Homo sapiens: one gene and its partners. The protein of the gene in region 3 interacts with the protein of the main gene of each other region in a biochemical or structural test. Each region holds a gene or a part of one and is shown on either strand. Other genes may lie near its edges.

Region 1 (7,106 bases), on a different chromosome or scaffold from region 3:
ATGGGTGGCTTTGAGATTCAAACATGTAAATTTCAACATCGCTATTAAAGCTTAAGCAAAGCTCTAAGATTATTTTCTGTTCTTTTAGAAACAATACAAGAAGGACTTAGAAAATGAAATTAAAGGGAAAGGAATGCAAGTGAGCATGGATATCCCAGATATCCTTCGAGCCAAGAGGACATCTGAAATCTATAGCCAGGTTGGTCATGAATGAAGATGCTCAGAATCGTGTATTCCAATGTCATGTTGCCATGTGCTTTGTATGTCTCTATGAATGATATCTTTCTGAGGGCATTGCATTCAGAGCTAGTGTACTCTTTCACTAAGAAACCATTGGCCAAACTTGATTAACCGTACTAATTAATAGGACAACAGTCATAGATTCAATGCAACAGACATTATGGAGAGCTACAGCCTCTCTGTCGGGGCTCCTTGTTTTGAGTCCAAGGACATTAAACCTTTTTTTTTTTTTTTTTTTTTTTAAATTTTAGAGATGGAGGTCTCACTCTTTCACCCAGGCTGGAATGCAGTGGCACCATCATAGCTTGCTGCAGCCTCAAACTCCTGGGCTCAAGCTTATCTTCCTGCCTCAGTGGGCATGAGCCATTGTGCCCAGCCCAAGGATATTTTAACCTTTTCTTTCTTTCTTTTTTTTTTTTTGACCCTATTGGACACTTGGCTCAAATGCTTTTGCTAATACTACAGAAAAATAAATTACAAACGTTTTGTCTTTTAACCATTTCATAATGAATATTAATATTAAAATAGTTCCAAATAAAGCTAACAGTGGCTAAAGCTGCACAAGGTATAAAGTGAAGTTTAGTGTTAGGTAAAAATTAAGGGAACAGTGAGGTTTTCTTGGTAAAATTTAGATTTGTCAAATATACTTGTCCCATATTCTGTAAACAAAGCTGGATGTGGGAGAAGTAGTGACCACAAAAATTTATGGAAGAAGAATTTATTTATAAAATCTGACTTGGGCAAAAACATTCATTAGCAAATAATATCTTTGCTGTAACATTTACTAAAAAAGAATGACTCCCAATGGAAAAAAATAGAAGGAATGAAAAAAATGAAAATGGTTATTTAAAATTGACCATAGCATTTAATTTGATTAATGGAGTTTATGCAGAAAGGATTGTGTAACAACATTTGGTGAAATTTGTTAAAATTCTGATTAAGACATAAGCAAGGACATTAACCATCCACTAGTTCAAAAGGGTAGTATCAAGATGGCAGAGTCAAATGTCAGAGGACTTGTGTGCCTCTCAGCCTCCGCAGCCGACACAGCCGCTGGGATGATCCTGAAGTGTGTGTTCTGTTCTCAGTGTTCGTGAACTTGGAGACATTGGCTTGGCCATATCAGCTTAACTAAAATCCTAAGTCAATGCATTAAACAACAAATAGACATTTGAGTCAGTGGAGAAGAGTTACTTACTCTCTCAAGAATGCCAAATTCATTCCTTCAGTAGGTAAATACCTCCTGAGCACCCATTTGCAGGCAAAACTAGACATGGCTTTGCTCTTGGAAAGCTACAGATAAATCTAATAATCATGTAAATATAGTATTACAACCATGATATATACACCTGAAAGTAAAAGTATTGAGAGTGAAGGTGCCTGAGCTGTCAGATTTCCTGCATTAACTCAACAGCATAGATTTTTTTTTAGTGTGGTGTGAGAATATATCTAATTTTAAGGGATTTTAATCACTGAAATACAATTGGGATACTTACGAGGGTGTAATGAAGCCTGGTGCATTTCAACATGAATAGTAGTTACCTTTCTTTTTTTTTAATTTTATTATTATTATACTTTAAGTTTCAGGGTACATGTGTACAATGTGCAGGTTAGTTACATATGTATACATGTGCTATGCTGGTGCGCTGCACCCACTAACTCGTCATCTAGCATTAGGTATATCTCCTAATGCTATCCCTCCCCCCTCCCCCTACCCCACAACAGTCCCCAGAGTGTGATGTTCCCCTTCCTGTGTCCATGTGTTCTCATTGTTCAATTCCCACCTATGAGTGAGAATATGCAGTGTTTGGTTTTTTGTTCTTGCAATAGTTTACTGAGAATGATGATTTCCAATTTCATCCATGTCCCTACAAAGGACATGAACTCATCATTTTTTATGGCTGCATAGTATTCCATGGTGTATATGTGCCACATTTTCTTAAGTAGTTTGCCAGAATAATTAACTTCACTGATTTTGGAATCAGAGAGCCTGGTTTTAAGTTGAGGCTCTGATACTTACTATCTAGTACTTCAGTTTCTCCATCTGTAAGATGGAAATAATAATAGTATCTGCTTGTCAGGTTGATTAAATGAGTTAGTGTGTGTTAAGTATTTAGAACAATACCCATTACATAGTAAGTACAATGTAAGTGCTGGTACTAGGATAAGATATTGCCTGGGTTGTATTAGAGCTCATAGTAGCTCATTTAGTGGAGAGAAAATTAAGATTTTAATCTCAACTTCAAAATACTGTTAACTTTCCCTTAATCAAATCTATCTTCACATGAAGTAGGAAGCAAAGCGTAAATCTAGAAGCCATGTCGTATGGTAGAGATCGAAGAATGGTATCATTCTATCTCTGTCTCTCCACCTCTCTCTCTCTCTCTCTGGGAGTGTAAGTCAGTAAAAACAGTTTTTTACTCTCTCTCTCTCCCTTCCTCCTTTCCTGCCTCCCTCCCTCCCTCTCACATGTGCGCACACACATAGTTTCAGATTTATATTAACTGTTTATGTTTTTAGAGAAAGTATAAAGATGAAGCAGAGAAGATGCTTTCTAACTATTCTACCATAGCAGATACTCCTGAAATTCAGAGAATTAAGACAACTCAACAAAACATTAGTGCGGTGAGTAGCCATTACTTCTTTTAAGTTGCCACCTTGAAATTTTGTTTTGTAAGAAATGGTCTTTTTTCCTCATTGTCTGATGTTTTCTGCTGTCTTAGTTGAATTTTCTGTCAAGTGTATTATCTTTATTTCTTTAAAATAATAAGAATACTGATAATTTTTACAAATTATCATTTTTCATTATTTTTTTGGAATTACAAATTCAAAATTTCCTCTTCGGTATAAATGACAGTTATTAACTAAATTTTAAAATTTAACTCAGGAAAGAAGTCTGTCTTCTACACAGATTTTACTTTGAAGGTGAAAATAGTCATATGAAGTGATTTTATTCCTGGTTATTGATTGTTTTTACTGATAATATGTCTAACCATTTACTCATTCTTAATAAATTTCTAAACTTCTATATTTTTATTTTGAGGAAGAGGAATTGCATCAGCACTTTTTTTTTTAACTTTTATTTTAAGTTTGGGGGTACCTGTGCAGGTTTTTACATAGGTAAACTTGTGTCATAGGGGTTTGTTGTACGATTATTTTGTCACGCAGGTGTTAAGCCTAGTACCCATTAGTTATTTTTTCTGATCCTCTCCCTCCCCTCCTTCTTCACCCTCTGATAGGCCCCTGTGTGTGTTGTTCGCCTCTGTGTGTCCATGTGTTCTCATCATTTAGCTCCCACTTATAAGTGAGAAAATGCGGTATTTGGTTTTCTGTTCCTGCATTAGTTTGCTAAGTATAATGGCATCTAGCTCCATCCATGTCCCTGCAAAGGCCATGATCTCATTCTTTTTTATGACTGCATGGTATTCTGTGGTGTATATGTACCACATTTTCTTTATCCAGTCTATCATTGATGGGCATTCAGGTTGATTCCATGTCTTTCCTATTGTAAATAGTGCATCAGCACTATTAATTAAGAGGCTGAGTCCATTAATAAATGTATAAACTTGACTTCTGTTCTAAAATTGTAAAAATTGACCATACAACTAATATTTTAACATAGAATTAGCTCAGTCATTAATAGTTAAGGAAGCATCTCATCAAAATATAAATTCTAGTAAGTGTGAGGACTTCTGGAATATTTCCTACCTCCTAATTAGTTGGCAAGCGCCAGCTCTCAGAGTAAGCTGGTCAGATGTCTGCTGGGTCTCCACAGGGATGGCCAGGCTGTACTGAGAAATGGGAAAGTCTTGATGGAAGGATGAGGAAAAGAGGCTGTGTGATTCTATAGTGTTCTGTAGTTCTAGCCTTTGGAGGAAAACATCTCTCCTACCGTGCTCTCCCACCCACGCGGGGGCCACTGGATTACCAAATGTCAAGAAAGGGAGTAATTCTATCCTCATTTACCTTTCTTATAATTACTCTGTTTTTCTGCAGAGTACTCATAACGAGGGCACTCATAAATACTCTTGTGTTTTTGTTCTGCTTTGGGTTTGGAAGGGTAGACGTTAGTAGGGGTGGAGACACATGGGAGAGGGTTAACAAATAAGTGGAAGATGAAGAAGATAGACTTGAAATTAACATTGATATTGATGATGAGCTAACATTTTCTTGGAAGAGAATGTGGGCATCCTTGTGTTTGGAGCATAGAAGTTGCCTAAAATGTCATTTTCTTTTTGAATTCAGTGATAACGGCTTAATGGGCTTTTGTAATATCTGCTTTTTCTCAAATACACATGGGACATATATTTATATTTGAAGAAAGGAACTCTGGTTTGCCAATGTGTATTCTTAAAGCAAATAATCTGCAGTCAGCCATGGTAGTGGTCTAGACCTAGAGCAGGAGAGGGTTATTTGTGAGATTATGGGATATAAAACCAAAGTTTTCATGGATTATCTGAATGGATTATTTAATTTGTTCCTATAATTCCGGCACTCATAAATAGATGCAGTATTCATATTATTATAAAACCTGAGAAATTGTCTTTCTAAGAAGCGGATCTAGGACTTGAATTCTGACAAGCTTAGTTATTCTTTTCCTTTTCTTATAATAAAGGTATTTTATAAGAAAGAAGTGGGAGCTGGCACTGCAGTGAAAGATAGCCCAGAGATCGAACGAGTGAAGAAAAATCAGCAGAATATTAGTTCAGTAAGTTCTCTACAGCATTAATTATCTTTTCTAAAAGCAAACCAAAACTATAGACAAATGTTTTTAGTTCTTTACTCAACTGATGGCTTTTTTCCTTTTATTCTTCACTTTATTGAAATGCTATTTCATCATATATCAAAGATCTAACTTTCAGAACAAAAACTGTATCCTTGTTCCCCTTGACTCTGAAGCAGTGTTTCATTTTGATATATCACAATGAAGAAGAGCTAGGTCATTTTAATGAAACCTAGGGTTAGATTTCATCTCTTTGAAGAGAATTTTAACTCTATTAAATTTTGCAGAGAAAGGATACATTTCAGTACCTCTCCACAAGTTGGAAGAAAGAAATTTTTCCCTGATACAATGATTAAAGGCCCCAGAACATTTATTTGGCAGCTTAAGTGAAGGATTAGATTTGAAAAGGCAAATAGTACCAGTTCATTTTTAACCGATGTCAGTCACATCTCTAAGCTTTTTATCAGACACGCTTCTGCCCATTTCTTCTTTCCAGCCTGTTTTACCTTCTGCTTCTTCCAGCAGAAACGAAAACAAATCACACATCTTCACTATAAATTGTGAAATAACTTAGCTTCCAGTAACCTTTAGACTGGGGGGAGGGGTCCTCTTCTGTTGGAAGGGTCCTTCTAACATTAAGGTGCTTAATATTACGGATAAATTGTTTTTTCCATTGAGTGTTTGACATTTGCTGTGGATAATTGCTCTCCTTACCAATTTGATATTCTCCCATGTATATTTAGTACATTGAGTTTCTTTTTTTTTTTTGAGACAGAGTCTTGCTTTGTTGCCTAGGCTGGAGTGCAGTGGCGTAATCTCAGCTCACCGCAACTGCCTCCCAGATTCAAGTGATTCTTCTGTCTCAGCCTCCCGAGTAGCTGGGATTACAGGCACACACCACCACACCTGGCCATTTATTTTTATTGTTTTTATTTTTAGTAGAGATGGGGTTTCACCATGTCGGCCAGGCTGGTCTCAAACACCTGACCTCAAGTGATCCTCCCGCTTCAGCCTCCCAAAGTGCTGGGATTACAGGCATAAGCTACTGTGCCTTTCCGTTACATTTAGTTTCTTGAGGAAGTAAAAAGGATTCGTTCTTTAAATCCCTTACTCTGACTTATCTTTTCACCTTATCCTTGGAAAGAGCACCTTCCCTTTAAGTAATCCAAGCAGAATTGCCTTGATTAGACTCATCTGTGGGTCACTTGGTCATTATGCAGCATCCAGAGAATATCAGTGTGGGTCAGCGTTTGTGAAGAAAGTGTAGGAGAGGTAAGAGAATGCAATAGTAAAGTATACTTCAAAATAAAAGCATAAAAAGTCTACAGAATATGAGTGCAATAAAACCTCTGTAGCACCATGGAGCTGTCTCTTGAATAAAGTGTAAGGAGGACCTAGGCTTAAGGTGTGGATGAGAGTGGATGAATGTGTTCTTCTGATCTTTCATGGTGAGAGCCTGTGTTAGCCTGGTAGATGAATTAGGTTGGGAGAGAAGTATAAAATATTCATTGCTTCTCTTTCCAATGATAATATTTAAAATGCACCCATCGATGTACTGTGGTTTAATATTATAAATATTCTGTAGTGTGCAATTCTATAGACTACAGTGAAATAACTGTGCCATTTTGATTAGAGTCCCTTTGAAAAACAAAAGTGTTCATCTTTAATCATGTTAAGCTTCTTACCTGAGGAAAATCCCAGAGTATTACAGTATATCATTTCTTCTCTTAGCATCCCACAGCCTCTTCTAGCAAACAATAAATGCATAGTTCTGTATCTGCATGAGGTTGGGCCATAAACTCCTGCTTAGTATTCAAATGGAAAGTTGCCCTTTTAAGATTAGCTAGATCTGTCAAACCAAGATATGATTCTCTAACATTTAAAGATCTCGACATTTTCCACCTCCAGAGTACAAGCCTTTTAGCTGTTAGCTCTCTGTCTTAAGAACTATTTTTGAATTTTATTTAGAGGTAGCCTGTCTCAGTGAACTTCCAATTTAACTGTTTTGGGTCTGGACTAATATTGGCATTGTTACTTACATGAAATCCACAGATACTAAGACATAGATGATATCTGAGATATTTAGGTACTGTTTCTTTATGACAGTCTGCATGGTTTTCACCCTTAATCATTTTAAACATTA
Region 2 (7,106 bases), on a different chromosome or scaffold from region 3:
CCCGAGGGCAGTGCTGTAGTGAGCAGTGCTGCAACTCAGGGCAGGGAACACTTGTCATCCCTGTGCATAACACCCCGTATAGCACTTAGGGTGGAGAGAATCATTCCTGGCTTGTAGACCAAGAAACTGAGGCAGAGAGGAGACAATGAGCCTGAGATTCTGGGGTGCCTCTGGTCACTGTGGAGCTGTGGTGCTGGCTGTCACTGCCCTCTGGGAGTCAGAACCACTGGCCATACTTCCCTTATGATCCCCCAGCCCCACCCTCACGACCCTGGGCTCTGGCACTCACTTGGCCCCTTGACCGTGACCTTGAGCTCCCCGCTGCCGGCACCCTTGGTAAACACCTTGAAGTCAGCCACCTCTTTCACGCGAACACCCTTGGGCTGCAGGCCTCGCCCAGAGGCGCGGCAGGCGTTGGGGTTACAGGCTAGGGGAGGAAGAGAAAGGAGGTTGGGGGTGCTGAGGGGCCTTGGACCACTAGCCCCCACCTCCCTGTGCACAGTCCTTCTAACCCCTCCCAGGCACAGGCAGTGGCCCACGGCCCTGCTCTGGAGCCCTTTGTGTCCCCAGCACAACCGGGGCTGCCGGGCTGGAGCTGGCTACAGGCCCCAGATCAGGCAGGTTACAAGAAAGTTTCCGAGCCAGTGCCACTGGGGAAATGCATGGCAGAGCCTGGGCTGAGAGTGGGCTCAGAGAGACAGGGAAGGCCCCTTTACCCAGCCCAAGGCCATCCATCTAGAGCCCTCTGGGCCTCTCAGGGCACCAAAGCAACCTTAGGATCTAAGTCATGCCACAAAACATCCAGCAATGCCACAGAACAAGGGCTACTTCATAGAACTCGAAGCCTGCCATACAACACAGGCAACGTGTGGACATCAGCCTACCACAGACCGTGGCCAGTGGCAATGAGCCCAGGCCTTGCTATGGAACACAGGCAAAGGAATGGGAATCTCAGCCTGCCACAGAATCCAGAAAAATGGCATGGGACCCACAGGTGCTACGAAACAGGACACGACACATATTCCAGGACTACCATGACCATAGGCGATGGCACTGCCCAAGGGGTACCACGGAACACAGGCAATGGCTCAGAGCCCAGATTTCATCATAGAAATCACCAGGCAAGTGGCAAAGACACTAGACCTGCCACAGAACACAGACAACGGCATGGAACCTGGGGCCTGCCACAGAATGCCAAGGAAGGGGGGGCGATTCCACACGGCCCGGGCCATGCCACACAGCACAGGTGAGGCCAGTCAGCTGCGGCCATGCCTGGCCCCGCCTCCACTGGAGAGCATTAATGTGGCATCACTCTCGGCCTGGTGGACGATGGGCACTGAGTGCAGGGAGAGAACAAGTGGGGCAGTCACCACCTGAGGGCTTGGCATGCAGGCAGTACTCCCTAGATATGCCCCCACCCATACAGCCCCGTCACTTCCGCTCAGCCCTCCCAGGGTGGCACATGTTCTGGGACCCTTCACTGTGGCCTCCCAGCTGTGCTCTTAGGAACTCCAGCCACCTTGGGGGTGGGATGGAGGACTCAGGGAGGGGGTCTCTGCAGACCCCCGCCCCAGCTCTTCCTCCTGCCCCTTGCAAGCCTCTGGCTTTGGTAAGGGCTACCGTGGGGAGCAGTGAAGGGCCCTTACCTTCCGACACATGGACAGGGAAGGGACTGCGGGTGATGGGGGCACCCGCAAAGGCCACATGCACGGTATGTGGCCCCTCCATGGCAGGTCTGTATGTGCAGCGGAACGTGCTGTCACCCTTGTCCTCCAGGGCCACCTCCACTGTGTCCCGCCGGCCCTGTGGGTCCACGATCACCACAGCAACATCGCCAGTGCCGGCCCCTGCCGAAAACAGAGGCTGTCAGCACCACTCTGGACACACACAGCTGCCCCGGTGCCCTCACCCTGAGGCTGCCCACCCTCTGGCTGGCATCCCTGTCCCAGCCTCCCCCCACCCCCACACAGCCCCACATGGTCAGGGGCTTTCCACCTGCACCCCCTGGGGCCCGTCCTACCCGCAGTGTAGATGTCAAAGTAGGTGGGTTTGTTGGCCACATTGCCCACAGGTTCCAGGCCAGGGCCACGGGCTGACACCTTGTTGGCATCTCCCAGGGCCATGCCCACGTTCACCTCAAAGGGACTGCGTTCAATGTTCTGGCCAGCAAAGAGCACGGTCACCTAGGGGTCAGAGGTCAAAGGTTAGCTTCTAGGGGAGAGCAGTCCTGAGAGGGGGCAGAGGGGCACAGCCAGGCCAAGGAGGGTGAGAGGCGGGCAGCTGGGGCTCTGGGCAGGCGCGAGGTACAGGCTGAGAGAGGGGTCCATGCAGCCGGAACCAAGGATGTGAAGAGCAGCGCAGGCAGGGGGGCCTAGAGGGAGATACCTTGTGTAACCCAGCGACCTTGGGCACATAGGAGACAGCATAGGTGCGATCCTTGTCATTGTTGGGAACCACCTTAGCCTATTAGGAAGGAAAAAGATTGGAAGCCTCTCCAATGACCATAGCCCCTCCTGACCCCACAGTGCCTTATGCACCCCAGCCCCACTCAGCCCCCATGGTGACACCTTCCCCAGACTGCACAGCACAGTGTGTGGCTCTGGCAGTCACCTCCGGGCCATTCCTGTTGTTGGCCCCACGCTCTCTGGTTCCAATCCCAAGTGAATCCCTCTGTCCCCAGCGGCCTCTGCATACCTCCTCGGTGTGGCCTTCAGGGTCCTCGATGTAGACCAGCACCTCGCCCACGCCCGCGTCCACCGTCTGCACGGTGAAGTGGGCAGGCTGCAGCACGGTGTTGCCCTGTGGCTCGATGCCTACGGGGCAGGAGCAGAGCCCAGGTTACTCAGGGAGAGCCTACATGTGCCCAGCTGCCCAGGAGGGCCGCCAGGGGCTCACACATACCAGGCCCATAGGCGATGGCTTTCTTGGGGTTCAGCTGCTTGGATCGAACAGGGGCACCAGGTTTGAGCTTGGCCTTGGGGAACTGGGACAGGTAGGTCATAACAGAATGCTCATCCACGTTGGGGTCCACAATCTCCTCAGGGGCAATGACCTGCGATGGAAAGGAGTGATGTCACATGGCGCCCTCTTTTCCCAGCAGCCCCAGTCTCCCCCTGCACCCTGGCCAGGTAAACTTACAGACCCAACCTCTGCCCCTGCCCCCTTTCCCCCCTGCCCCATCTGCGCATGTACCTGGGGCACCCCAAGCCAGTCGTCGGCCTGCTGCATGGCCTCCCGGGCGTTCTCCACGGGCTGGTTGGGGTCCCAGGCCTCCCAGTCGGGGCAGAGACCTGGAGAGGTGATGGAGGGAGACGATGGTGAGGGGCAGCCAGCCGGCCAGGATGCAGGGCATTTGTTCACCCAACACCCTCAGAGGCTGTGGCTTTACACCCCTTCCCACCAGCTCTAGGCCTTGACCAGCCAGGTTCCTGCTGACCCCATCAGCTTCGAGGCCCCTCACCACGTAGGAGCAGGACAGCCCTCTCCACCACCAACAATGAAGCCTTTCTGCCCTGGCTGACGCAGCCTGGCACCAGCCCTGCTGGCCGGCCTCCTGCCTGCCCAGGCCCCAGCTCAGACCTTGAACCCCAAACCCTGGGAGGGTACCCCCTCTCGCTATCTCTTGCCTCATTCAGCTTTCTCAGGGGTGGGCAGAGGAGGTCAGAGTGCCTGTCCCACATATGCCCCTGACCCATCCCCCCTAGAAGGCCTCCTCACAGCTGCCCCGAAGCTCTAGAACTCCAAACGCTTTCCACACCAGTCTTAGGGTATGAGACTCCCTATTCCTTCTAACTGCTCACTTGGGGAAACTGAGGCATTAAAGGGCCTGTGAGGAGAGAATGACTTCTCCTCTGCAGCCCTCAGGAGCCCTGCCTTCCTAACAGGAAGGACGCTGAGGCAGCCCCAGATCACTCCTATGAACGGTGCAGGTGAAGGGGCGCTTGGTTTAGGCCAGAGCTGGAGGAGGGGGACGGCACACCGTTTCGGGGAGGGGGCCGGCTCAAGGCTGGAATCCATGACTGGCTGGAACAGCTGAGCTCACTGCTGGCAGCCACACCAGTTATGGGCCATGGCTCAGCAGCTGGGAATGCTTCCCAGGAGGCTGTGCCCCCGCCTCCCACCCTCTGCTCCCCGGCTGACCCCAGGGTGGAGGAGGATTCTCCCGAGGGGCTGTGACTCCTGGAGAAAACCTATCTTTTCAGGAGATGAGGGGCAGAAAGGGAGCTGTCCATGGGGTACGCTCTAGCCAGTGATGCCTCAGCTTTTTTCATGGCCCCTGAGCTGTCCCCACTTGACCAGGCCAGGACCTACACGGAGAAGGGGCAAGGCTGGCTCACCTGCCACCAGGCAGTGCCCCACTGGCCTCATCCCACATCATCCTGAGCCTCAACCCCTTCTCAAAGTCATCCCAGGGTCTCCCAGAGAAGAGCCTTCTCTGGATCTAACTCCTGGTCTTGCTACAAGTCCTGGTCACCACACTGCCTCTCTCTCAGCTCGGCAGGAATAGTGCCTCGTGGCACAGTAAAAAATTCATGGGGCAGGGAGTCCAGGCCCTGGGCTCTAGGTGGTTCTGCCACAGATAAGCTGTGTGATCTTGGATAAGTCACCAGCCCTCTCTGGGCCATAGTGTCCTTGTCTGTAAAATGAGGGGTTTTAAACCTCTTCCTGCCTCTGCGGAATCTGGCACACTCATCAGGTAGGGCCTGCCACCAGCCAGCGGAGAGCCACAGCTGGAGGAGGACAAACCCTGCAGGGGATCCTGGCCCCCAGGCCCCAGGGTGTGCATTCTGACAACCACACGCCTTGGCAGCCCCAGCTTGTCCCCTCTGTCTTTGGGAGCTAAGGGCTCCATGCTGTGCTCACTGGCCCACTCACCGGGGGCGCAGTTGTCCACCAGGGCGCCCAGAGCTTTGCCGTCCTGCCAGTCACGGTTGAAGTTGGTGATGGGCAGCTGGGGCACCTTGTTCTGGATCCAGCCAAGCAGCCGCTGCTTGGGCGTCTGTTTGCGGGCATCCTCATCATCTTCATCCTCCCACATGGGCATGGAGATGGAGTAGTGCAGGATCAGCGTCCAGATCAGGCCCAGGATCAGCTTCAGGTTCCCATCCACGATGGCCTTGCTGTCTGCAGAGGGGAGGGCACAGACGGGCTCAGGGGCGCCCCACCCTCCACTGCCCCAGAGCACCCTCCCTCACCTGCGCAGCTCCTCGGGCCAGAGCTCTGGGGTCAGGCCTCTAGTCTCTGCCTACCTGACCCTCTCCCTCCTGCGAGGCCCCACTCAGATGCCAAGTTCTTTATGGGGCCCTTCCGGTCAGAAGGCTGCTTCTCTGTGTTCCTGTGGTTCTGGAAGGTACCCTCACCTCAGCTACAGCAAGTGAGTCTGCCTCCTGTCTATGTAATTACCTGGTTTCTTTCTGGCCTTGTGGGATTGTAAGGCTCCCAGGGCAGAGCCTTTTTGTTTTGTTAACAGTTCTACTGAGCTATGATTGACATACAGCAAACTGCACATGCTAGAGAATGAAGTTTGAGAAGCTTTGACACTATGGATATATCACGAAGCCGTCACCACAGATGGAGAATAACGAAGGTACCATCCATCACTCCCCAAAGTTTCCTTGCACACACCCCTTTGTGAGCCCTCCCTCCTGCCGTCCTTGTCCCTCCATCCCAAGCAACAACTGATCTGCTCTCTGTCACGATAGATTACTTTGTATTTCCTAGAGTGTTATATAAATGGAATCACACAGTATATACTCTCTTTTTTTTTGGTCTGGTTTTTTTCACTCTAGACACTAGGTTTTATCTTTCTACAATGAAGGTCTTAAACATAGTAAGGTCTCAATAAATATTGGTTGAATGAATATTTTAAGAACTGAAATTGGAGTGGGGTAGGACAAGTTTCCACTCACACTCTACCCCGAATGCCAGAAAGGGCTTTAGAAACCAAGGGGTTCTGATAGTGGGGCAGGGGTGGGTGGGTGGGGTCCAGTACATTCTCAGTTAAGTCTTGAAAGTCATGTTGTCAAAGGCTGGGGGCCAGAGGGACTCCAGCCTCAGGAGCTGACACACTCCACCCATCACCTCCTTTGAGGAATCCTTTGAGCCAGAACTGGTTCCTCAAGATTTGGGGGGGGGGGGCGCCTAGATCCCCCTTAACAATCAGAAAGAAATATCCAGAAGCCTGGGGTGGCCTAGCATGTAGATAGATCTTTGGAATTCAGCTTACTTGTAAAGGGCAATGAAGTTCTGAAATCTATCAGCTTCCCAAAGCACTGCTTTCAGGAGGCTGGAAGGGGGTGGAAGACAGTCTTGTTTACTGATGTTGCCCGAGAGATGGGAGAGGGTGGAGTGGAGCCTTCCCCTTACACATCTTCTCCCCTCCACCCTTCCCCAGGTCTTGGGGAAAGTGTTAGGAGACCGAGAGCCTGGGAAATCCAGGGCATCCCCTGCCCCACTCCCACCTGCCCCGGGAGGGGTGCCTCAGTCTCCCTGTCCCTCTGGCTGGGGCTCTGGCCGCCTGGGCTCCCCCACCCTGTCACTGATTCATCCTTCCTTCCCCAGCAGCTCCCCAGCCCACCCCCTTCCCCTGGCTCCACTGCAGCACAATGGTTTGGCAGCTTTCAGATTCCATGACACACTCACTCCCTGCCTCCCGGTGCTTTCTCTCAAACACACAGGCTCCAACACTTTCACACAGTCTGGATGCCCCAGTGCCCCCAGCCTCTCACAACCCCGACAGCCTCCAAAGCTCACACGCCCAGAAGTACTTCTTGCAAACTGGAGCCAGACCCCTGGGCAGGAAGCCTTGAGGCTGCAGGGGTTGGGGGGGGCGGTGTGTATATGGGGAGGGTGGTCATTCATATTTGCTGGAGAGGGAAGTTTCTCCCCAGCAACTGGCCCTGGGCCAGACAGCAAGTGGTCCAGGCTTGGGGCAGGAGAAGGGCAGTGGGGCCCCAAGTCCCACTCTGGAAGCAATGACCTCCCTCTCCCTCCTCCCTCTCGGAGGCCAGGCAGAGGAGAGGAGCTCAGCGCCACCAGGGCTCACCAAGCCACTTCTCCATCTGCCTAGGGATACCCCCAAAGGAGTGGGAGGAGCCAGACAGCTA
Region 3 (7,411 bases):
TCAGAGTCAGAGTAGCTCTGGGTGACTTACGCTTAGAGACTCCTTCCCTCTCTCTATGTGCCTGGCCTGGGCTTCACTTCGCTGCCTGCATGGTTCGTGGGCAACAGGTCTTGAACTTAGGACATGGACCCATTAATCATAGTGGGTTCCTGCTTTCCCTACATCTCATGCGTTGCTAGGGAGTGACCATGGTACCACTGGACATGAGACACTTTCCTTTAGCTCCATAAGGGACGCATAAACCTCCAGTGGGCAAACTGGACATGCCCCATCCTCACCTTCCTTTGTTAAAAATCAGTGTTTCCCTGGAAGACTGCCAGGGGAGTGGCCTGGGGGAATCCTGACTTTTGGAGTCCCAGCCTTGGAGAGGCAGGTCTCTAAACTGGTGACTGATTTCCTATGGAGACGAGATTCCTTTGCAGAACACCAGAGGGCAGACTTGCCATGTTGACCTGGAACGCTGCCTAACTTTTACCTCTTGGCTGTCAACGCACTCCAACCTTTCCCAGGCCCAAGGAGGCAAGCAGAGGCCAACAGCCCATGCTAGAGCGGAAGCAGTTGAGAATCAGGGCTGGGAAGCTGCTCATCAGATATCTCGTGCTTAGGCCAGATCCAAATTCTGAATATCTGGTCAGGGTTTTCTGCATTATACTCGAAGACTGAGAATGTCTGAGCTAGGGGGATCTCAAAGGTCTTTTAGCACAATCATTTATAAATAAAGATGAGGGAACTTAGGCCCAGAGTCAGATCTTGGTGAATAAATGGAAGGCCGTGCTGGCTTGGGGTCCCTAGACTCCATTTAGGGCATGGCCCCAAGAAATAAGAGGGTAGCAGGTGTAAAGCTTTCTTATTGGCCATAGAACCCGTCTATTCCCCAGCAGGCACCCCTGGGAGGATATGAGGGTGACAACAACCAGGGAGAGGACCATGGGATCAGGGTCCTTTCTGCAGAGACAGCCCTGCCTCTTGCTCCTGGATACCGCTCTCTAAGCAAGCAAGCACAGCTTCAGGGGCTCGGACTCAGGGGGGCTTCAGGCTAAGCCCTACCCCTGCAGGCCTCATGGCCACCCCAGCTCAGCCTCTCCCCGGCTACACCCCCGCCCCTCAATGACCTACCACCCCTCAAGCCCTTCTCTGGTCTCTGTCCATGTATGTCTTATCTCTCTTGTGACAGGTGTACTAACAGTCCCCAGAGGCCAGTAGGGAAAGAATGGGAAGCACGTGCCCCCTCCTGCTGCCCCTGACCCACTGCTCTGCACCACACAGGGTGCTAAATATAGCTGAGGTCCTGGCCTCAGAACAGCAGCCCTGGGCTCAGAGGGAGGCTGAGGCCCAGCCAGTGGGGACCCTCAGTACCCTTGGCTCACCTCATCTCCTTCATTAGCCTGGGCTCCCCTATCCTGCCTCCTGGGCTGGTGTCAGGCCCCTGGGCTGCAGGCCAGCCAGGTGCTAGAACCTGGACACCTTCCCTGGCCAAAGGAGTCTGCACTGGGGGGAGGTACTGGAAGTAAGTGGGGCAGGACTTCCTCCCTATGGCTACCTCAGAAGGAGGAGAGAGGAAACTGAGACCTGCTGACCCCATGCCCACCCTGGCATGTCCACCAAAGACATCAGAACCTTTGGGGAATGTGAGCTCTGAAACCTGCAGCCTGAGTCTCATCAAAGCTCTGGGTGGTTTTCTTTCATTTCTGAGCTCCAATGAGGATCCCCTGCCCAAGGCAAACCTGAGCCTGTCTCCACCTCTACTCCATCCTGTCACCACCAGGGTGGCCTGAGCAGATGGTGTGTGCACACCATCAGCTTCACCCCACCCCCGCCCCCAGGAATTTCCAGAATCTCTGCTAAGGCCACAGACAGTTATTATCATGGAGTCCAGGGATGTCAGGCCTAAGGACCCTCAGAGGTCACTCAATCTAAACCCCTTATTGTTCAAATAGGGAAACAGAGGCCCAAAGAGGGGAAAGGAGCTGTCCAAGGAGGCTCAGCAAGGCAGTAGCAAAGCCTGAAGCATGTCTCCTGACTCCTGGCCTTCCCACCACCATCTTTGCCTGGCTTGAGACTGCTGGGACAAGTGTAGAGTCAGGACAGAATTCATAACTGGGACCAGACTTACGTGGGGTGAGCCCCAAGAACTGTCCTAGAGCTTGGTCTCCTAGGGCTGGGCCAGCCTCTCAGGATGGTCCCCCTGCTGTCCTCGGGTCACCTCCTCCTTGGCCCAGCTGGCTCCATATGTCTTTACATCTGGGCAAATTCAGATCTGGTCTCCCTCCCGTGAGCCCCCCAAATCTGCCCTGGGGGCTTTCCCACTGGGCAAGACTATGGACATGGGCAGAGTCCGAATTCCACCCCAGGTTTTAGGCTATGATATGTAGGGAGCTGGGCTCCGGCCAGCCCCTGGGAGCTATCCCTGGGCCAGATATGCCAAGAGTGTCATCCACAACAACTAGGCATGGGGCTTGTTCTAGCAATGCACACTCAGGCCTACTTACAGCCCCCTGCCCCCACCTCTCTCCTGTTCCTCCTTCCTCCAGATCCTGGGCCTGCCTGAAGCTTCCCTGGGAGGAAGCCCTGAAGCCTGAGGCACTCCATACCTGTATTTTAAAAATCACAACTCCAGGCCTTTCTGGATCATGCCAGCCTGGCAGGAGCCTATCCTTTCTGCTAGCTTCAGGCCTGTGGCAGCCACTCTGAGAGCTCCCATGGGGCTCACACTGTCTTTACCTCCTTTGTGGGTTCTTTATGTCTGAGACTTCCACTCACCTCCTCCCATGCATGCCCCTCAATCTCCTTCCCCTACTCAGAGCCATTCCTAATACGTCCATTTCAGAAGGAGAGGGGATCCCAGCTGTGAAAGCCAGCCTTGCTGTGGAAGGATGGAGAGGTAGGTTACTCACCAAGGGTCTCTCTTGGCTGATGGGGTGTTTGTGGTCTGTAGCAGCTGTGGTCTCAGGGTTCGTCGTTCCTCTGGAGGTTCTTGTTCAAATTGGTTCTGTTCTGCTGGCTCCAACAGACACCTTCTTGCTGCCCTGGCTCCAGGTCTCTGTCCCCTGCCAGCCCCAGCAGCTGCCTTTATCTTGCTGGCTAGTGGGTGGGCCGTGGTGGGGGCGGGTGGGAGAGGCTATGTTCCGAGTATTAAGTGGTTCGGTTATTTTTAGGTCTTGTGGAAGTCACTCTTCCATCCTGGGGAATCAGTTACATGTCCTTTGGGCTGGGGAGGGGAAACAGAGGGGGAGAAGCTTCATTCATCCAAAGTCTGATCTGGGGATTGGGGTCAGTGACTCAGCTGGGTTGTGAGGTTGGGGGTGTCCCAGACTATTTTGAGAGAGTGACTAAGAAGAGGCATCTGACACCTTGGACAGCTTGCTCCCGTCTTGTGAGCCCCCATCATTCTACTCTGGCCCTGCCTCTGACTCTTCCTGACGTGTCTCCACCCACCGTGCCAGGAGACTGGAGGTCTCCTGAGGGCAGGCTGGGCACCTCCTCCTCTGTTCTGAGCCTGGATACCTCTGAGTGTGATGCTCAGCTCTCTTTCTTCCCCATTCCCTTCTGCACTAAAGAGTTCCTTCTTTCTTATCCATTCCACCCTGTGCCCCACAGCACAGGTCAACACAGCCCCGATGAAGCTGGATTTGGGGGGAAGACATCTGAATGACCAGGCCCAGCTCTTCACTGGGCCGAGATTGGCCAGGCCCAGCTCCTCCTTTGCACCACTACACCCAGTTAATTTTTGTATTTTTAGTAGAGATGGGGTTTCACCATGTTGGCCAGGCTGGTCTCGAACTCCTGACCTCAGGTAATCCACCTGCCTCGGCCTCCCAATGAATGAATTCCACAGCAGGACTCTATGGTTTTCATTCCAGATTATCTGAGTCCTTTCTTCTCGACTCTTCCCTCTGACTCAGGGCCCAGGCTTTCTGGGAATGGAGGGGAGGGGAAGGGCGGCATGCAGGGAGCTGACCGTGGGGTTATTTCTGACCCTGGAGTCATCAGCTTCCCAGTCACAGATGGAGTGGCGGCGGGGGTGGGGGGGTCACACCTGCCTCCTCCTTTGCTTACCAGGGCGTGAGGGGCCCAGGAGGCCCAAGAGATCCTGGCAGTCAGACCAGTGTGGTGAAGGATGTCAGGGGACCATCTGCAAAAAACTCGAAAGAGGTGTTTTGTCCTAGGTGGGCCTGGCCCAGGCTCCATGCCTGTGGGTATGCAGGTGCATTCTGTGGCCTGGCACATGAGGTCTTCCTTCTGACTCCCCAAATGCCCTCTGGTACCAGGGGGTGATGCCAGACATTGCTCACTTTTTCCATGTAGTCAATGTCAGTCCTGCAGCGTCAGCTGGGATGGGGGTAAGGACATCTGGGAACCCCCTCTTCCTGGTCTCCCTCCCTCTTGTCTCTTCCCCTGCTCTTTTCTAGCCCTCTGCCTGTCCCCCAGGCTCCTGGCTCTCTCTAGGAAGGGCAGGGAGACCGATGTACCAGTGTTTCAGGGAAAGGGCAGCCTTAGGTTTCTCAGGATTTCTCCTGGGAGGAGCTTTCTCCCTGTGGGTACTGAAATTTCTTACTTTCTAGGATAGTTTTGAGAATTGAAGGAATTATTATATGAAAAGAGTGCCTCCAGCCAGGCACGGTGGCTCACGCCTGTAATCTCAGCACATTTCGGCAGGCTGAGGCTGGTGGATCACTTGAGGTCAGGAGTTCGAGACCAGCCTGACCAACATGGTGAAACCTTGTCTCTACTAAAAATATAAAAAATTAGCTGGGTGTGGTGGCACACACCTGTAATCCCAACTACTTGGGAGGCTGAGGCAGGAAAATTGAATCTGGGAGGCAGAAGATGCAGTGAGCTGGGATCGCACCCCTGCACTCCAGCCTGGGCGATAGAGCAAGACTCTGTCTCAAAAAAAAAAAAAAGTGCCTGAGAGTACTTAGCACATAGCCTATGCTTTAGAAGAGCCAGCTATTATACTGTATATAATATAAAAAGAGAAAAGCCCCTAGGTGGAACTCACTTTTGTACTCACCTCCTGTGATAACTCATGGGAGAAATTCCTCAGGCCTCAATATTAGGAAAGAGGCTCTTCCTGAGCACTTGGTTTCTTTGTATCTAGTACAGCTGTGCTGTCCAATAGAGTTGCCACTAGCCAAATGAGGCTATTTAAATTTAAGTACATTAAAATGAAATAAAATAAAAACTCAGTTATTTCACTACACTAGCCATATTTGAAGTGCTCCATAGAGACAAGTGGCTAGCAACTATTATATTGATTTTGTTTGCTTGTTTGTTTTTGAGACGGAGTTTCGCTCTGTCGCCCAGGCTGGAGTGCAGTGGCGCGATCTCGGCTCACTGCAACCTCCACCTCCCGGGTTCAAGCGATTCTACTGCCTTAGCCACCCGAGTAGCTGGGATTACAGGTGTGTGCCACCGTGCCCAGCTAATTTTTGTATTTTTAGTAGAGATGGGGTTTCACCATGTTGCCCAGGCTGGTCTCAAACTCCTGACCTCAGGTGATCCACCTGCCTCCGCCTCCCAAAGTGCTGGGATTACAGGCATGAGCCACCGCACCCAGCCTGAAACTATTATATTGAATAGTGCAGAATGTTTGCATTATTTCAGAAAGTTCTACGGATAGTGCTGTTATAGATGTTAAAATAAATAAGAAAATAAATTTTTCTGGAAGGAGAATTGTCAATAGAATAAACAATTTTTATGACATATGGTGTTTCTCTTTGACTTGGCTGCTAGGAAACTCAGAGCTAAATTTTTAACCTAGCAAGTAGACTTTATGGTCCAAATCCTGTGTAATGAGGGTGACCAACTTTTTGTTGTCTGTCTCTGAGGAGTTTTGCAAGACAAGGGATGTTCAGTTTTAAAACTGGAAAAGTTCTAACAAAACCAGGACAAGCTAGTCACTCTATGTGTAATGATCTAATGATATCACATCATCATGGTATTAATTATGAGGCTGTCAAGATAGTAAACTAGGCATTATTTACTGGAGTATCTTTAGTGGTATTAAGAAGGTAAACTGAGGCACAATAAATTTTTTAAGAGTTTATTTGTGCAAACAACAATTTTTGAATCAGGCAGTCCCAAACCAGAAGTGGCTTGGGAACTCTACTGAGGGAGCACAAGCGGGAGGTTTTTATAAGACAGATACAGAAGTAAAGCAAATATAATATTTGATTGGTTACAGTTATACAGTTGCCTTATTTGATCTATCCCATTGGAAAGTCCCTGGTTATATAATTATTTGTGCTGGCTGCTTCTCATTAGTTGCACTTAAGTTTTATTTTTCTTTAATATAGGCATTTACAAGAAATAGCTCAAAGGCAGGCATGGTGACTCACACCTGTAATCTGAGCACTTTGGGAGGCTGAGGTGGGAGGATCACTTGAGCCCAGGAGTTGGAGACCAGCTTGGGCAACATAGCGAGACCTCATCTCTACAAAAAATAAAAGAAAATATTAGCTGAGTGTGGTGGCATGCAATTGTTGTCCCAGCTACTTGGGAGGCTGAAGTGGGAGAATCGCTTAAGCCAGAAAGGTGGAGGCTGCAGTGAGCCGTGATTATGCCACTGCATTCCAGGCTAGGTGGCAAAGTGAGATCCTGTCTCAAAAAAAAGAAAAGAAAAGAAAAAAGAAAGAAGGAAGGAAAGAAGGAAGGAAGGAAGGAAAAGGAAGAAAGGAAGGAAGGAAAAAGAAAGAAAAAGGAAGGAAGGAAGGAAGGAAAGAAGAAAGGAAGAGCTCCAGTTTTGCATGTCTGCAAATCAAGCAAGGGTAAGGTCCCTTACGAGACCTAACTTGTTTTGCCTGCTCAGGGATGCTTCAGGTCTGAGCTCCATTTTTTTAACAGTGGAGATACTGTGCATCTATTTCTTTAAGCTCTCTCAAATCATTTTGGGAACGAGGCTGGAAATAAATAAATATCCTGAGGTTGAACAGCTGATCTTTGCCAACAGGCAGAGAGGTGCTCGGGGAGGGGGTATGAGGGAAGGGTGGTTCCCTTCCAGCTATCGCAGTCCTCTCTTTGGGAGCCTACTGGTTTTTAGGGTCCAGGGCATCATCTCCTACCAGCCCCTCCCTCCAAGTAGGGCTCCATCAAAGTTGGGTTTGGGCAGAAATTCACGCATAAATCATGAAGGAGCCGAGTAAGTAGCTGGCAGTTGACTCACTTCAAGTTTCAGGAGAGACAGGATTCGAGAATGATAGGAGCCAGACTGCTTGAGGCTGAATCCTACCTGTGACACTTAATAGCTGTGCAACTCCTGGCTACCCTGGCACTGGCTGGCAGTCCTGGCTTCCTGCTGGCTGGGAAGCAGGCACTGGTGCCAGGAGGACAGCTTGGGCAGCCAGGCTGGCTCTGTTCCAAGCCTGCAGGTGAAGGGTCTGCTCAGCCTCTTGATACCAGAGAAGAATCA

What was found.
Region 1: the proteins of XIRP1 (region 3) and NEBL form a complex in vitro, tested with the Homo sapiens proteins (one study listed by BioGRID and IntAct).
Region 2: the proteins of XIRP1 (region 3) and FLNC form a complex in vitro, tested with the Homo sapiens proteins (2 studies listed by BioGRID and IntAct, with this or other methods).

The regions. Positions count from the first base shown.
Region 1 is NC_000010.11:20,824,289-20,831,394, reverse strand, and holds part of NEBL (nebulette), read left to right. Parts: intron 1-88; coding exon 89-199; intron 200-2,760; coding exon 2,761-2,865; intron 2,866-4,855; coding exon 4,856-4,948; intron 4,949-7,106. UniProt on the Homo sapiens protein: Binds to actin and plays an important role in the assembly of the Z-disk. May functionally link sarcomeric actin to the desmin intermediate filaments in the heart muscle sarcomeres.
Region 2 is NC_000007.14:128,833,344-128,840,449, reverse strand, and holds part of FLNC (filamin-C), read right to left. Parts: intron 5,125-7,106; coding exon 4,876-5,124; intron 3,291-4,875; coding exon 3,193-3,290; intron 3,053-3,192; coding exon 2,902-3,052; intron 2,814-2,901; coding exon 2,695-2,813; intron 2,464-2,694; coding exon 2,386-2,463; intron 2,184-2,385; coding exon 2,021-2,183; intron 1,848-2,020; coding exon 1,647-1,847; intron 428-1,646; coding exon 290-427; intron 1-289.
Region 3 is NC_000003.12:39,189,552-39,196,962, forward strand, and holds the start of XIRP1 (xin actin-binding repeat-containing protein 1), read right to left. Parts: upstream 3,045-7,411; 5' UTR 2,895-3,044; intron 1-2,894. UniProt on the Homo sapiens protein: Protects actin filaments from depolymerization. Required for correct cardiac intercalated disk ultrastructure via maintenance of cell-cell adhesion stability, and as a result maintains cardiac organ morphology, conductance and heart beat rhythm.